Linked DNA regions of Homo sapiens. The protein of the gene in region 2 interacts with the protein of the main gene of each other region in a pairwise test. Each region holds a gene or a part of one and is shown on either strand. Other genes may lie near its edges.

Region 1 (7,028 bases), on a different chromosome or scaffold from region 2:
CTAATGCTTTATAATTGATGGAAGGGTCTGATGAACTTTAACCGCCTCTGACAGAATGCTAAGATGTATGGGGAAGGGTAGGAGACTACTGTTAGCTTCTCTGCCTTCTCATTGGGTCTGGGTGATTGAAGGGTCCCCTCTAGCACGACACTTTGTAGTGGCTGACCCCTGATTACTCCCTGACAGACTGGTGCCCCTGCATTCTAGTCATTGTTAATGATCACAAACATCCATAATCTCCCTCTCCTAACAATAATCCAGGAAAACGAGCTGGTCTCAAAACCATATTTCTTAGGCCATTTATTGGATTTCATTGTTAACATTTTATTAAATAAGTCATTTTGCTTGGCTGTTATCTTGGGAAAGTTCTAGCTGAATAGGAAAAATATCAAAATATGCTACTATGCTTTCCCTTATCTAATTGTCTTGCATGGTACATTTTCTCTTAATATATGTGAATTGGCCAGACAGGGTTTTCACAGTGCCATCTTTATAACCTAAATTAGAGTTAACCTCTCCTGTTTTCTTAGAAAGAGTATTATCTTAAACATCTTCCTTAGAAATTAAACTCAGTGAATGGGAGGTGGGCCGTGCTAAGAATTTTATGAAGATATTCTCTGAATCTCCCTCTTACTTTACTTAGAAGTGCTGCCTTGTATTGTATTTCTATTTATCTTCATCTCAAAGTCAATTTGTGTCTTGGTGGTGGAGAAAAGGGCAAAATTGTTTAAACATAGGACTAACTAAGGCTCTTCAGTTGATATTACTATAAACTTTTTTCTAATTTAAGTTAAATATGTTTCAACCAAATACACATTGCTATGAAAATGAATTCCTGTAACTGTAAATCTGCTGTGTCTTTGATCCTGCCACCTATACAACTATAATCAGTTGACATATCCATTTCAGATATCAGTTTTATGAATTAATCAACCATCTGCTTTTTAAAAAATACTAAGTAAGGCTCTTTTCCATTTCAGAAAACAGATAAAAAGGAAAATGCAGGAAGTTTGGAGGCCATAAATGAGCCTATTCCTCAGCCTATGCCTTTTCCACCGAGCATTATCAGGTCAGGATCCCCAAAATTGGATCCTTCTGAGGTCTACCTGAAATCTAAGACTTTATATGAAGATAAACGTAAGTAGTTGTGGAATATTTCAGGAGAGCATATAACAAGATAAATTTGGATTTATTTTAGACTAGGACCTTCCCATCTTTCAGAAGCATATTGAAAAGTTATTCCTTCATTACCATTTTAATAGAACTCTGGACTTCTTCCATGTATATTCGACATTCACACATTCATTTTTTTCAAAATCATGCTTTAAGTGCTAGTTATCTACCAGATGCCATACTAGGTAACCAGAATACAGAGATAAATAGGTTACATAGGACCTGCACCCAAAAATATTATTAGAACTAAATGGAAAAAGACAAATATGTAATCAAATAGTATACAAATAAGTACACATAATAAGCCTAACAGGTACAGTGATAGAAAGATGAAATGGATAAATTGGGATCCAAAGAAGGAATATTCAGTTTTATCAGTGTGGGCAGTAGGAAGTGTCAGGAAAAGCTTCATACTGGAAGCAAAGCTTTAACTAAGTCATCAGGGATGAAAAAGTGTCTTTGAGGAAGATAAAAGGGAAAGATAGAAGGAATAGCACATGCACACTGGCCTTGCATGACTTGGGCTCTGCAAGTAGTTCACTTTCGCTGGGTGCAATTGGCAAGGAAAGTCACAGAGGAGAGCAGGAACAGATTGAGGAAGGCCAATGATGCCCTTCCAAGGGAGCTGGAGTTGGTCATATAAATAACAGAGAACCACAGAATGCCTTTAACTATAAGGAAGGCATAGTTTTGTGTTTTAGAAAGGTTTTTCTGGCAGGAGTATGAAGGATGAATCAGAGGTGTATGCAATTTGAGGGAGGGTGTGCAATTTGAAGAAGAAACTAAAGAGTTGACTCCTTACAGGAGTCCAGCTGAGAGATAAAAAGAGAGACTGCATAAGGCAGAAATTCATGCATGTTCCTACTAATTCACTTACTAATGATAAATCTTTTCCAAAGTAAAATTGCAGATTTGAGTAGGTATAATTTTTTAAAATTTATTTGTTCTTAGAAAGAGATGTAAATCTACCTTGGAAAAGATATGTACAAGTGGAATATATGTATAGTTGACTTAATGCTTATTTAACTAGTTGCAGAAGTACATCTTGATAATCCCAAGCCATATTCAGAAAGATGAAAACCAGTTGTACGCCCAGCAAAGCAATAATTTAAATTAGCATAACAATGTAGAATCCCTTTCTTCATACTTTCCATTCATAGCCTGATACATTATTAATACTGGTATAAACTCTGCAGTCCCATCAGGCTTCACCCATAAAATAAGTGAGTTGAACTGATGACTCTTTTTTTTTTTTTCCCCTGAGACAGAGTCTTGCTCTGTCACCCGGAGCTGGAGTGCAGTGGCACAATCTCAGCTCACTGAAACCTCTGCCTCCTAGGTTCAAGCAATTCTCCTGCCTCAGCCTCCTGAGTAGCTGGCACTACAGGCGTATGCCACCATGACTGGCTAAGTTTTGCATTTTTAGTAGAGACGGGGTTTCACCATGTTAGTCAAGCTGGTCTCAAACTCCTGACCTCGTGATCCGCCCACCTCGGCCTCCCAAAGTGGACTCTTTTAATCTCTAAAGTTCTACAATTTTAATAGGAAGTATATATCAAAAGATACTGCTTCTATAGAATATTATCAGGAATTTACTAATCTCACTTTTTACATAGTTCCCTGACATGTTTATTTCTTCTCTCTTTACAGTAAATACTTCTTACCTATAAATAACATTAATATTTTCCCAAAGGAAAAATTTTAGTCATGAAATAGATTTTTGTGACTTAATATTCTTTTTTTTTTTTTTTGAGATGGAGTCTTGCTCTGTTGCCCAGGCTGGAATGCAGTGGCACGATCTCAGTTCACTGCAACCTCTGCCTCCCAGGTTCAAGCAATCCTCCTGCTTAATATTCTAAGGAATACAACCTACCCTTTGAGGGTAGGACAGTATGAGTTAGGAGATTAGACCCTGGAAATCAACCTGGATTTAAATCTTAGCTTCACCACTTGCTATGTGACAATGGCCAACTTACTTACACCCTCAGTTTTCCCACCTAGAAAATGGGGCTAATAATAAATGTTAGCTCTTAATTATTTTCCTTTAAAATGCTATCATTTTGCAAAACTAGGCTAGGTAAGTAGTTCATATGGAATACTTTTCTGAGAGAAAGGTATTAGCTTGAGAGCAGGAATAAGGTATTTTACAGGCACTCTATACAGCAGTGCCTGTACAGATTTAATGTACCTTACCCAAGTGTTAACTTAGGTCATTTGCACCTGTCAAATATCAAACTCAAGTTTGATCATTCTGAATTCAACATTGTTATATTGATTGGACAGCATTAGAAGTTAATGGCAGTGTAATACTGAGTATATGGAAGTGAGAGTAAATGTTTCTAAACAGTCTTCATACAGTTTTGTTTAGAGCTCAAAACGAGGATTTATAGTTGAATTGTGTGTGTGTGTTACACTCTTGTGCAAATTTTCCATATTAAAAAGTTCTGAGATTATAGTTTATTGAGTTACTCTATAATATCCTACTAAATACTGAACTTTGTTTTGTTTTAATCCTTTTAAAATAAATCATAGTATTTATATTTTCTGATTTTCCTCAGCACCAAACACCAAAGATTTGGATGTTTTTCTTCGAAAACAAGAGTCAGGGTTTGGCTTCAGGGTGCTAGGAGGAGATGGACCTGACCAGTCTGTAAGTGTCACTTCTTTGGAACATGGCTGTTTCCTGTTCAAACGTTTTGAGTGGTGATTTGGTGGATTATGGTGTGTTTTAAGTTTTTTTTTCTCTGACAGTTTCATTAATATGAAGAATAACTGCATTTCCATTATTATCATAGTCCCTCAGTTATTGTGGTGTAGCTGAGGCTAAAAACTGTGGGTAAAAACTGAATATGTCAGCTGCAAATTAGACAGTGATTAATTTATTTACTTCTCTGTGTGAATAACTACATAAAGCTTATTTTAAGTTTATATTTTCCTTTGCCCTCATTAAACAGAGTCTAAGACATTTTCCTTCTCTAAGAAGCCTATAATCCCATGTCCTCTTTCCCACTATTACTCTATCTTCTGGATGCTCCATAAATGGTTGGCATGAGCCTGTGCATATTGTTTCACCTCGTCTTATTAATAGGTTGGCATTTTCATGCTCAGTACTTTGCATGTCATTTCATCTGTTACCTTTGAAACTAGAGGAATATAAAATAATTAATATTTTTGTCCAGAGGCATAAGGGTTATATTTGCAAAGCATTTGAAGTCTAGGATTTTGTTTACACATGATTCTCACATAAACTTGTTTTAGAGAACAAATGTAGTGGGTTTTGTTTCTAAGTTTTGCTCTTGGTTTGAATAACAAAGAAGTAATGTGTTCTGTAGCATTTTTAAGAACATATTTGCATTTTATTTTATATAATATCAATATATTATATATCAAAAAATATGGTTGGAAGTTAGGTGAAGAACAATAATCTTTAAAAATTACAGGCTTCTTATTTCTGAATAGAACATTTGATTTATGTAGTATAAATTTGTTCTAATTGGTCATATTGGTTACAGTTACAACAGTCATTGGAGACACATAAAGCTTAAGGCAGGTTGCCCTATGTAGAACAAATACTAGATACTTTAATTGTTCTTGGTATTTGTATTTTTGTTTTATTGCTTCCTATTTTGTTGATACTCATAATGTTCACTTAGACATTTTAAGAATTTGTCTCAAACAACTTAGAAGAAACCTTTCTTTTCTCTTAAATGTCAGATTTTAGCAGCTCTGAAACTAGCCTAAACATTCAGGATTGCCTAATTACAGGATTCTAATGCTGGTGAGCAAAATGAACCAGATTTGTTCACCTAGATGCAAGTGAAGCTTCAGGCCACTCTGTTCCCGCTGAGATTTAGAAACAAGAAATGTCTCTGTGCTGTGTATATTGAACTTGTACCGTTAGTCATATGTGATGGGAGTACTGTTGAGAATGATCCCAGTTGCTGTGAACAGTATGTAGAAAATCTTGCCTGATGACATTGAACAGACTTTTAATAGCTACTCTGCAGATTTATATTTTCTGAGTTTAGTGTTTTGTTTCATTGTAATGATAGGGATAATGGTTGTGCTTTTTGAGTTATCGAACAACTTTGTATTTTCTATTTTCTTTGTACACAGCCCTGAGGATCTATAAGGGATTACATAATACAATGTGGTTATTTGAAGTGCCATTTTGGAGAATGGGCACTTTCTCAGATAATACCTTTCTAAAATATAACTGTTTTCATAGTTGAACTGCAAAAATCTGTTGGTTTGCACAATGCTAAGTTAGGAATTCCTTAACTCTTCAGCTAAACTTTACACTGTGGACCAAACTGTACTTTGTTATCTTATCAGATATATATTGGGGCTATTATTCCCCTGGGAGCAGCTGAGAAAGATGGTCGGCTCCGCGCAGCTGATGAACTAATGTGCATTGATGGAATTCCTGTTAAAGGGAAATCACACAAACAAGTCTTGGACCTCATGACAACTGCTGCTCGAAATGGCCATGTGTTACTAACTGTCAGACGGAAGATCTTCTATGGAGGTGTGTGAACTTGTTCCTGCTCTGAAAAGTTAAAAAAGAAACAAAGATACTAGTCTACTTCCTGTGTAGTTTTGCAGGTTATTTTATTACATTCAGTAGTATCTAAGATAACCCATTTGGTGTGATCCAGGGCCTCACTGTGGAAGGCTATGCAAACACAAAAGGATTCAGAAATAATACTACTATAAAAAAATAAATTTTGGGCTTCTATATTAAGATTATTTTCATATATTGATGCATTTTGCAAATGTATTATAGGTGGGAGTATTGATTTAAATCCGGTTTTGTTTTGTTTTGTTGAGTTGAGGTAGAGTCTCACTCTGTCACCCAGGCTAGAGTGCAGTGGTATGAGCTCAGCTCACTGCAACCTCCACCTCTTGGGTTCAAGCGATTCTCCTGCCTCAGCCTCCTGAGTAGCTGGGATTACAGGCACACACCACCACACGGCTAATTTTTGTATTTTTAGTAGAGACGGGGTTTCACCACATTGGCCAGGCTGGTCTCGAACTCTTGACCTCAAGTGATCCACCTGTCTCAGACTCCCAAAGTGCTGGAATTACAGGCGTGAGCCACTGTGCCCAGCCTAAATTTGTTTTGTTTTTTTTTAAATAACAAATACAAAATTATTTAGTCATACCAAGATATCCCACTAGCTGAATATACAAAGATTTTTGGATCCCAGTGAAATCTGAGCTACTAAAGGAAAGTAGGATGTTTCTACTTGAGAAGTTTTAGTATAATTTAACATTTATTGAGTGCTTACTATGTCCTAGATGCATGGATTATTTTATTTAATCTTCACAACACTATGAGGTCATTATCTAGTTCTATGATTACTCAGAGAAAGGTTGAGAAACAAATAACTGGTAAGAGGTAGGGCCTGGATTAAAAGTTGCAGTTTAATTCAGAGATCAGGGTTTAAACCATAGCATTAGGATATGAATATCTCTTATAGTTTCTCGCCAGTAGCTTTATGAATAATTAAATAGAAATTCTTATAAGTGAATTCTTTCCACTTTAAAATTAAAAAAATACAACTCTGTAGCACAAGAATATAAGCCTCATGAAGGTATGAATTTTTATTTGTGTAGTTATCTGCTGTAAGCTCGGCACCTAAAAGAGTGCCTGTCTGGTACAAAGTGGACATTAATAAATGTTGTTAATTGGATGAATATTTACATCACTCTTAAAAATGAGGCACTGTATTTTTTATTGCAACATTCAAAGTAAAGGCCTGCCTCCTTTGGTAAATACCAGGCATTTAGAATGCATATAGATTGTAATGCAGTACTGCCTCAATTTGGTTGTGTTGGAGGCCAAATGTAAC
Region 2 (7,028 bases):
TGACAATGTCTACCTCAAGGGTTGTTATGGTTGGACGAGTTAATATATATGAAGAGCTTGGGACAGTTTCTGCTTTATGTAAGTGCCTGGCACCACCTAAGTATTTGTGGCTGTTGTTACAAGCATTATCATTATAGCAGGCAAGCAGTAAGTATTTGTGGGAAAAGTGAATCCTTGTGCAACAAATATTTACTGCTCACCTCTGATGATAATAATAATAACCTAAAACCGTGGTTCTCAAACATCAGTATGCATAAGAATCACCTGGAGAGCTTGTTAAAAATGCAGAGCCTTAGATAACAGATTCACCAAGTCTGTCATAGGGCCAGAAATTCTATTTCTGAGACTGGTGTCCTCTGTCTATACTGAGAGTAACAGTCCTTTGGAAAAGTAGATTTGCCATCCTGGACTTCTATACTTCCTTTCCCAACGACAGACAATTGTCATCTGCTTGGCTGACAAGACCCTACCACCACATTAATTAACTTAATTTGGAGATCAAGATAAGAAAACAACAGTGGTAGAATCAATAGCAACAGAGCATTGCAGTAGCCACACAGCTTTTGCTAATTCCCAGGCCTTACGCAGAGTTCTTCATGCAGATGTGAGCTGGAGAGGTTTCTTGGATTGATTTGCAAGGTTGATTACTTCACTGTATTTCCACACAAAGGTTTTCATGGGAGATGTGTTATGTGCCCTCACTCTGATTGTTCTCATCCCAGAGTTGGAAAAATTGGTTCTAGAGAGGATCAACCAGTAGGGTGATCCTCCCACCGGCTCACCCACCAAGTCCATTCAAAACCCAGAGGAGGACCAGCCAGACGGTGTCTTGCTGCTTCACTAAAAACCCTTTATGTTGCATCTTGGAAACTGTCTGAGCCCAGACACTGGCAAGGAGAGGGTTGAGTTTCCCAGACAGCATCAGAGCATGTACCAGGCAGCCTGAGCTGGTATGGTCCTTGGACAAGAGGAAGCAGCGGGCCAAGTCCCATGCTCTCTGCCTGTGATGTCCACCCAATCTGGCACACCTGCTCCACCACTACCTTCCCCATCACAGTGCCATCTTTTGGTTTTTTTGGTTTGTTTTGTTGTTGTTGTTTTGTTTTTGTTTTTGTTGTTGTTGTTGTTGTTTTGAGACGGAGTCTGGCTCTGTCACCCAGGCTGGAGTGCAGTGGCACCATCTTGGCTCACTGCAACCTCCACCTCCCAGGTTTGAGCGATTCTCCTGCCTCAGTCTCCTGAGTAGCTGGGATTACAGGCGTGCACCACCACGCCTGGCTAATTTTTGTATTTTTAGTAGAGATGGGGTTTCGCCATGTTGGCCAAGCTGGTCTCGAACTCCTGACCTCAAGTGATCCGCCTGCCTCGGCCTCCCAAACTGCTGGGATTACAGGCATGAGCCACCATGCCCAGCCCCATCATTTCTTTGTAGCATTTGTTTTGTGCCAGGCATGGTGGGAAGCCTTTTTCTTGCATTATTGCACATGTAATTCTTACAACAGCCCTTGGATGTAGCTACTACTCAAGACTCCATTTTACAGATAAGAAGACAGGCTCTTAGGTCAAATAATTTCTTGGTGTTGCACAGTTCGCAGTGGCAGAGCTGCATTTCACATCTTTATGCCAGGATGTGTGGCTCAGCAGGCACATGACAGGCTAGATTCAGACCATCCCCATGGTGTGAGCACACTGTGGGGGGATTTTCTGACAAAAGAGATCAATTGGGGTATGATAATTCAGAATTACCTGGGAATCTCCCTGTCATTAGACATTCCATCCCTCCCCCAACTAAACGCCAGCAGCTCCCCACCCTAGTCATTGAGATGACCAAAAAACGCTCCCCATTTCCAATCCCCATGCAAAGCACAGCTCAAGTGTCCTCCCTGTGTCCATCAGAAACATGGGTGGTTTTGCTGTTTGTTTTTAAGATTCTTAGCACAAACATGGTTTCTGTGACCAGCAACCAGAAACCTGCGAGGTCCAGTGGAGACGCAGCTATCCTTCAACCTCCAAGGCCCTGTGCCATCAGCTCCAGGAGAAGTTATGAGCAACAGCTGACTGTCGGACAGACTCTTTAATCTTCCAGCCCTTTCTAGACAGGGCCTGTCAAAGGAAGGTCCCTTATGGCCAAAATTTCTTTCCAGGGAGTCAGCTCAGACAGCACAGTTGTCCCCAGAGAATCCTAGATTTAGATTGTTAATGCTTGAGGGACTTAAGAGATTATTTTTTCCAATCTCCTCCATTCACAAGGCCTAGAGAGGTGGAGTCATCTACCCCAGGGACACAGCTCACCAGCATCCCAGCTGGGGCTACAGTGCTGTCTCCAGTGTTCTCTCAGTTCTGGCCACCCTGCTGTCAGAAAACTAGCCATTGTGGAACTCAGGAGCACCATGAAGCACCGAAACGATGTCATTCGAGGGTGTATCAGAGCAACTAGGGATGCTGCGTGTCCAGAGCAGGGGCCTCAGATGGGCAGGACATCTGCCTATCACAGTCGCAGGGCTGTCAAGTGGAAGAGGGCTTTGCCTTGCTCTATGTGGTCCAAGCGGTGACATCAGGACCAGTGAGTAGAAGGTCCAAGACCACAACAGGGTTTGACTCATTCTAAGGATGAGCTCTGTAATAGTCAGAGCTGTGTGGCCAGGAATGGGCTGCCTTGCAAGGAAGGAGTCCCTGTTGCAGGAAGTGCTAGTGAAGACAGAAAAAGACACTGGGTGGGAAAGCTGCAGAGGGAGTCAGCCTCTGATTAGGGGACAGATTCCACAGCCTTAAAGATGCCTTCCAACCCTGCAAGACTTTTACCCAAGGTGATCACCTGAATCTCCCTCTCCCACCCCCAACGCAGGGGTCCTATCCTCTCTCATACCCCACGACTGCGGGAGGGTCACCCTAGTAGCAGGGTGTCCACCAGTCTCGACTCGGCAGAGTTTTCAGAGATTCCAGTGAATACTGTGACCTTAAATGAGGTCACATAAGATGGGACTGTGCCTACTGCTCTTCCCACAAAAGACTGTGGATTCCCTGCAGGGAGAATGTCCCTTTGGGGGAGTTGGTCCAGAGGACTATGGACTACACTTGCATCTAAGAACCTTGGAGGGGAATGGGAGGAGGGAGAAGAGGTAGGCTTCCTCCCACTCCCACTACCACTGGGGCCTCAAGGGATCTGCCAAGTTTGCTCCAGGAAGACTATTGCCAGCCTGGCTGTGCCTCATCAGCTGTTCCCCATGATGCTGAAAAGCAAAGCTAGGAAAATTCTCCATATGTTGGGGCCCACGGAGGGGGAGACAGCCACAAACAGCTGTGAGACCTTCATCGTTCCTGTATGATGAAATGACAGTAATTATGCCTCACATTTCAGCAGAGCATTTATAAGGCTAAAACGGGTTTGCTGTGGTTTTTACATGTGTGTGTTCATATGTTGCCTCATTCTGTATACAAAGCACTGTCACATGATGTACATTTTTATGCCTCTTATTCTTATTTATGCACATATACAGTAACAACTGCTCTGTAGGATAGCCAGGACGGGGGTAATTTTGCCCATTTTACAGATTACGAAATAAAGGCACATGAACCATTAGGCAACTTGCCCAGGTAAGACAGGCTGAGCTTTGTTTTTTAGGTCCATGGATAATGTTCTTTCCAACACACAGACACACATACACACATGCACGTGCAAACACACATGCATCTCTTTAGAATCAGTTTAATGGATATGCAACTAACTAGCATTTGAATAATTGTTGTTAATGAAGATGGTGACCTTGGAAACTGTTAGTGCAAGCATCATGTAGAGACAGGGCACAGGGAGTGGGGCAGGGCAGCTGAACGAATGAGGGGAGTAGCAGCTGGAGTGGCATGGGTGGTCCCCAAGGCTAATGCTGTTCACTCTAAAGCAGCACAGGACAAACATCTGTTTAACAAGGCACACAGGCTGTGGAGCCCACAGCCTCCCCAACATGTAGGATCCCACAGGCCATGGCCTGCCATAGGCAGCACTTGACCTCTGGGTTACATGCTGCTTCCCTGTGACAGACTAGGTCATGGAAGGAAGAGCAGTCCCAAGGTCACAGGCTGCCAAGAGTGTTCTCTATATGCAAAACTGCCTGAAAAATAGAGGTTCATCTCAGCAGGGAGAGACACAGAAATACATCCAGCAACAGTTATGAGGGCTCCCTCGCTTTGTGAGGAGTGCTTACGCAGGCTTTATGGCATGAACTCCAGAATAGTTCTTACTCTGGCCAACCGTGGTAGAGATTTAACAACCAACCCCAGCCTTCCTTTGGCAGATATGAGACCAACCTTTGCCTCACCTCAAATCCAAGTCTGGAGCCAACTTCAGCCCTCTTCATTTCCACTGATGGCCAGGGGAAGGAAGTGTGCTGGGCACCCCAGGGACACTCAGGTGACCACATGGCCTCAGCCATGTGGAGTCCTACATGCTATCCAGCTAGGTGACGGATGGAAGGAGTTGACGTCCCCTGTCCTGGCCACTACTCTGTCTTTCTTATTGTTATAAAGTCTAAGCCAACTGGCTTGGCCAAAAATGTGGCTGATTAATTCAACTGCTTAGGGAAGGATCTGATGATGCATTCTGGAGAGGGGGCAGGGAGAGGAAGGTAGAGGCAATGCAGAGGAAAAAGTAGAGGTCTAATGTTTATTGAGCACTAACTATGTTCTGGCTACTTGATATGCATTATCTTCTTTAATCTCATTTCATAGCTGGAGAAAGTGGGGCTCAGAGAGGCCCAAAGTCACATGGCCAGTAAGTGCAGAGCCAGGATGTGAATGAAAGATTTGCCTTGACTCCAAATTTCTACCACACCAGTGGGTTGCAACCTTTCTTATTTTTCATTCTACTCCAATATATGAAATTGGATAATGAATAAAAGCTCTGGTTGAAGCTCTGCCCTCTGGCCCTCCCCCTCTCTACCTCTGTCCATCCCCTGAGGCTCCACCTCACCCCTTAGGCCTCCATACCACATCTCTTGGAAACCTCTGTGGGCTCTGGTGGGCCAGGCCCCTTCTGGATCAGTGGATATGCAGAAAAATAATCTGGGAAGGCTTTGGAGCTGCACCTGCCATAGTAGTATCCTCTCAGGGCCCTGGAAATGCAGACAAAACCATTCCCGAGGCCACACTCCCACTGCAGCATCCCAGCTGGCTCGCTGGGAGGGGCCACTCAGCTCTCCTGAAGTGCTCACTCCTCAAGCATCACTCCAGGCTCTTGACACGCCCTTCCCTCAGTGACTGTAGTGCCTGTCCTCCCTCTGCCCCGCCATAACCAACCCACATACCTGAAGCTGCCCTAGGGGAGGTGGAATGAGAAGCTGGTGCTATATCTTTCATCTCTCTGAAGCCACGACCACCTCCCAGGCTAGGTGGTGACAAACCAGGAGGGTGAAAGAGCATTCTGCCTCACTTCACACCCCCATGCCATCAGCAACTACCTCACTACCTGCTGATGGCAGCCCTAGGCACCCAGCTCCCTGCATTCTAGGGGTGCACCCACCAGGAATCTAATGCGGGCCCTGGATTTCTATAGCTAGTTTGCCCCTCTCTTCACCCTCTTCTTCCTGCACCATGAGAGGAGCAACCCACATCCCAAGTTTGGTCTACCTTACGGTGTCTTGGCCCATTGCTACCCATCCTACCCCAATATCCCCAGTGCCACTGTCTGTCCTTGGATAGGGGTGGTGGGAGCTCTGGGGCTGCCTTGCCAGATGGTGAAGCCAGTGCTGAGCACTGGAGGCACATATGGAGGCAACAAAATGTAGGAGACAGAAGCATTACCAACAGCAGTCCTTCTCCCAGCTCCTTCCCCACCCCCTTCCATGCAAGGAGGAAGCCAATGACTGGCTGCTACTGAGGTTGAGGTCAAGATGCTACTCACAGAGGGCACAGCTTTTGGCCTGGCTAGGTGAGCATGCAAATCCATATGCAGATTATATGCAAATCTGGGGTGTGCCCTTGGGTTCCTGGCACCCTGCCATCGCTGCTGCCTGTAGCTCACCCTATTCATGCACCTGGGTACCCGCTAGAATCGACTGGGCTGGGAGCTGAGAAAGTGCTTCAGGAACTAGGGGATCTTCTCTTGACTACTTCAGAGGTCCCCCAGAAAACAACTCCTCCAAGATCACGGAGGAGGGAAGAAGCTCGCAGCCTGGAACTCGTATCCCTGCAGAAAAACTCTCTGAGCATCTGCCCTCCCCTCTCTTCATCTACAATTAAATCATCCTTCACCAGCCAGAGCAGGGTACCAAGCAAGTGGCAAGTGGCAAGGATGTGTCTTCTCTAAGACACAGAGAAGGTCAGGAAGGCTTGAGGTCTGCATCCCTCTGTCATAGGCTAACAGTCCATGGGGTGCTCTGGACAGACCTTGACCCTGTGTCTGGGGGCTCCTAGCCAGCCTGTTTGGGGCCTGCTTCCCTACCAAGCTCTCCCTGGGCCAAAGCCCTGTCTGCTTGCTCACATCCTCTCTGATCCTCATCCTAAGAAAACTAAGCCTCTCTGTCCAGTCCCCCGGGATCTGTTCAACTTAAGCGCCGCCTTTGGGTCTACTGCTTACTTGTTTTTTGTTTCTAATTAGCTCCCCCATTCTACTGCAGAAATATATTAAAGGCAGCTGGCTTTGATGCCCAGAAAAACGAAGCGTCGGAAAGGCTTGTCGGGCATCATGGCCCTGCCAATCTCCCTCATGTTATTCTAGCAACCGGGGTCTCTCTGCCACTCAGCCCCTCCCCAGTATTCACTGGCCCTTCGCCTGCCTCCCCTAAGTTGCGTTTGCCATTTCAAGATTTTAAAAACACATTTCCCCATTGCCCCCCCCCCCTTTTTTTAATTAGACACTGAACAGAATGTTGGAGATTTTCTTAATGCCCTGACGAAGGCTTTTAATTTGGTCTTCCCAAGAGAGAAGAACCATGAGTCCCCATCGGAGAAGTTGGGGTGGGAAATGAAAAAATCAATGCAATCCATTATTTTGGCTTTTAGAAAACAGGAATTTTAGTGCCGGGGAAGCTTGTTCT

Evidence for each region. The genes of interacting proteins can lie anywhere in the genome.
Region 1: the proteins of DSCAML1 (region 2) and MAGI3 interact in a two-hybrid assay, tested with the Homo sapiens proteins (one study listed by BioGRID and IntAct).

What each region holds. Positions count from the first base shown.
Region 1 is NC_000001.11:113,645,506-113,652,533, forward strand, and holds part of MAGI3 (membrane-associated guanylate kinase, WW and PDZ domain-containing protein 3), read left to right. Parts: intron 1-980; coding exon 981-1,137; intron 1,138-3,731; coding exon 3,732-3,823; intron 3,824-5,508; coding exon 5,509-5,701; intron 5,702-7,028.
Region 2 is NC_000011.10:117,787,212-117,794,239, forward strand, and holds part of DSCAML1 (cell adhesion molecule DSCAML1 isoform 1 precursor), read right to left. Parts: intron 1-7,028. UniProt on the Homo sapiens protein: Cell adhesion molecule that plays a role in neuronal self-avoidance. Promotes repulsion between specific neuronal processes of either the same cell or the same subtype of cells.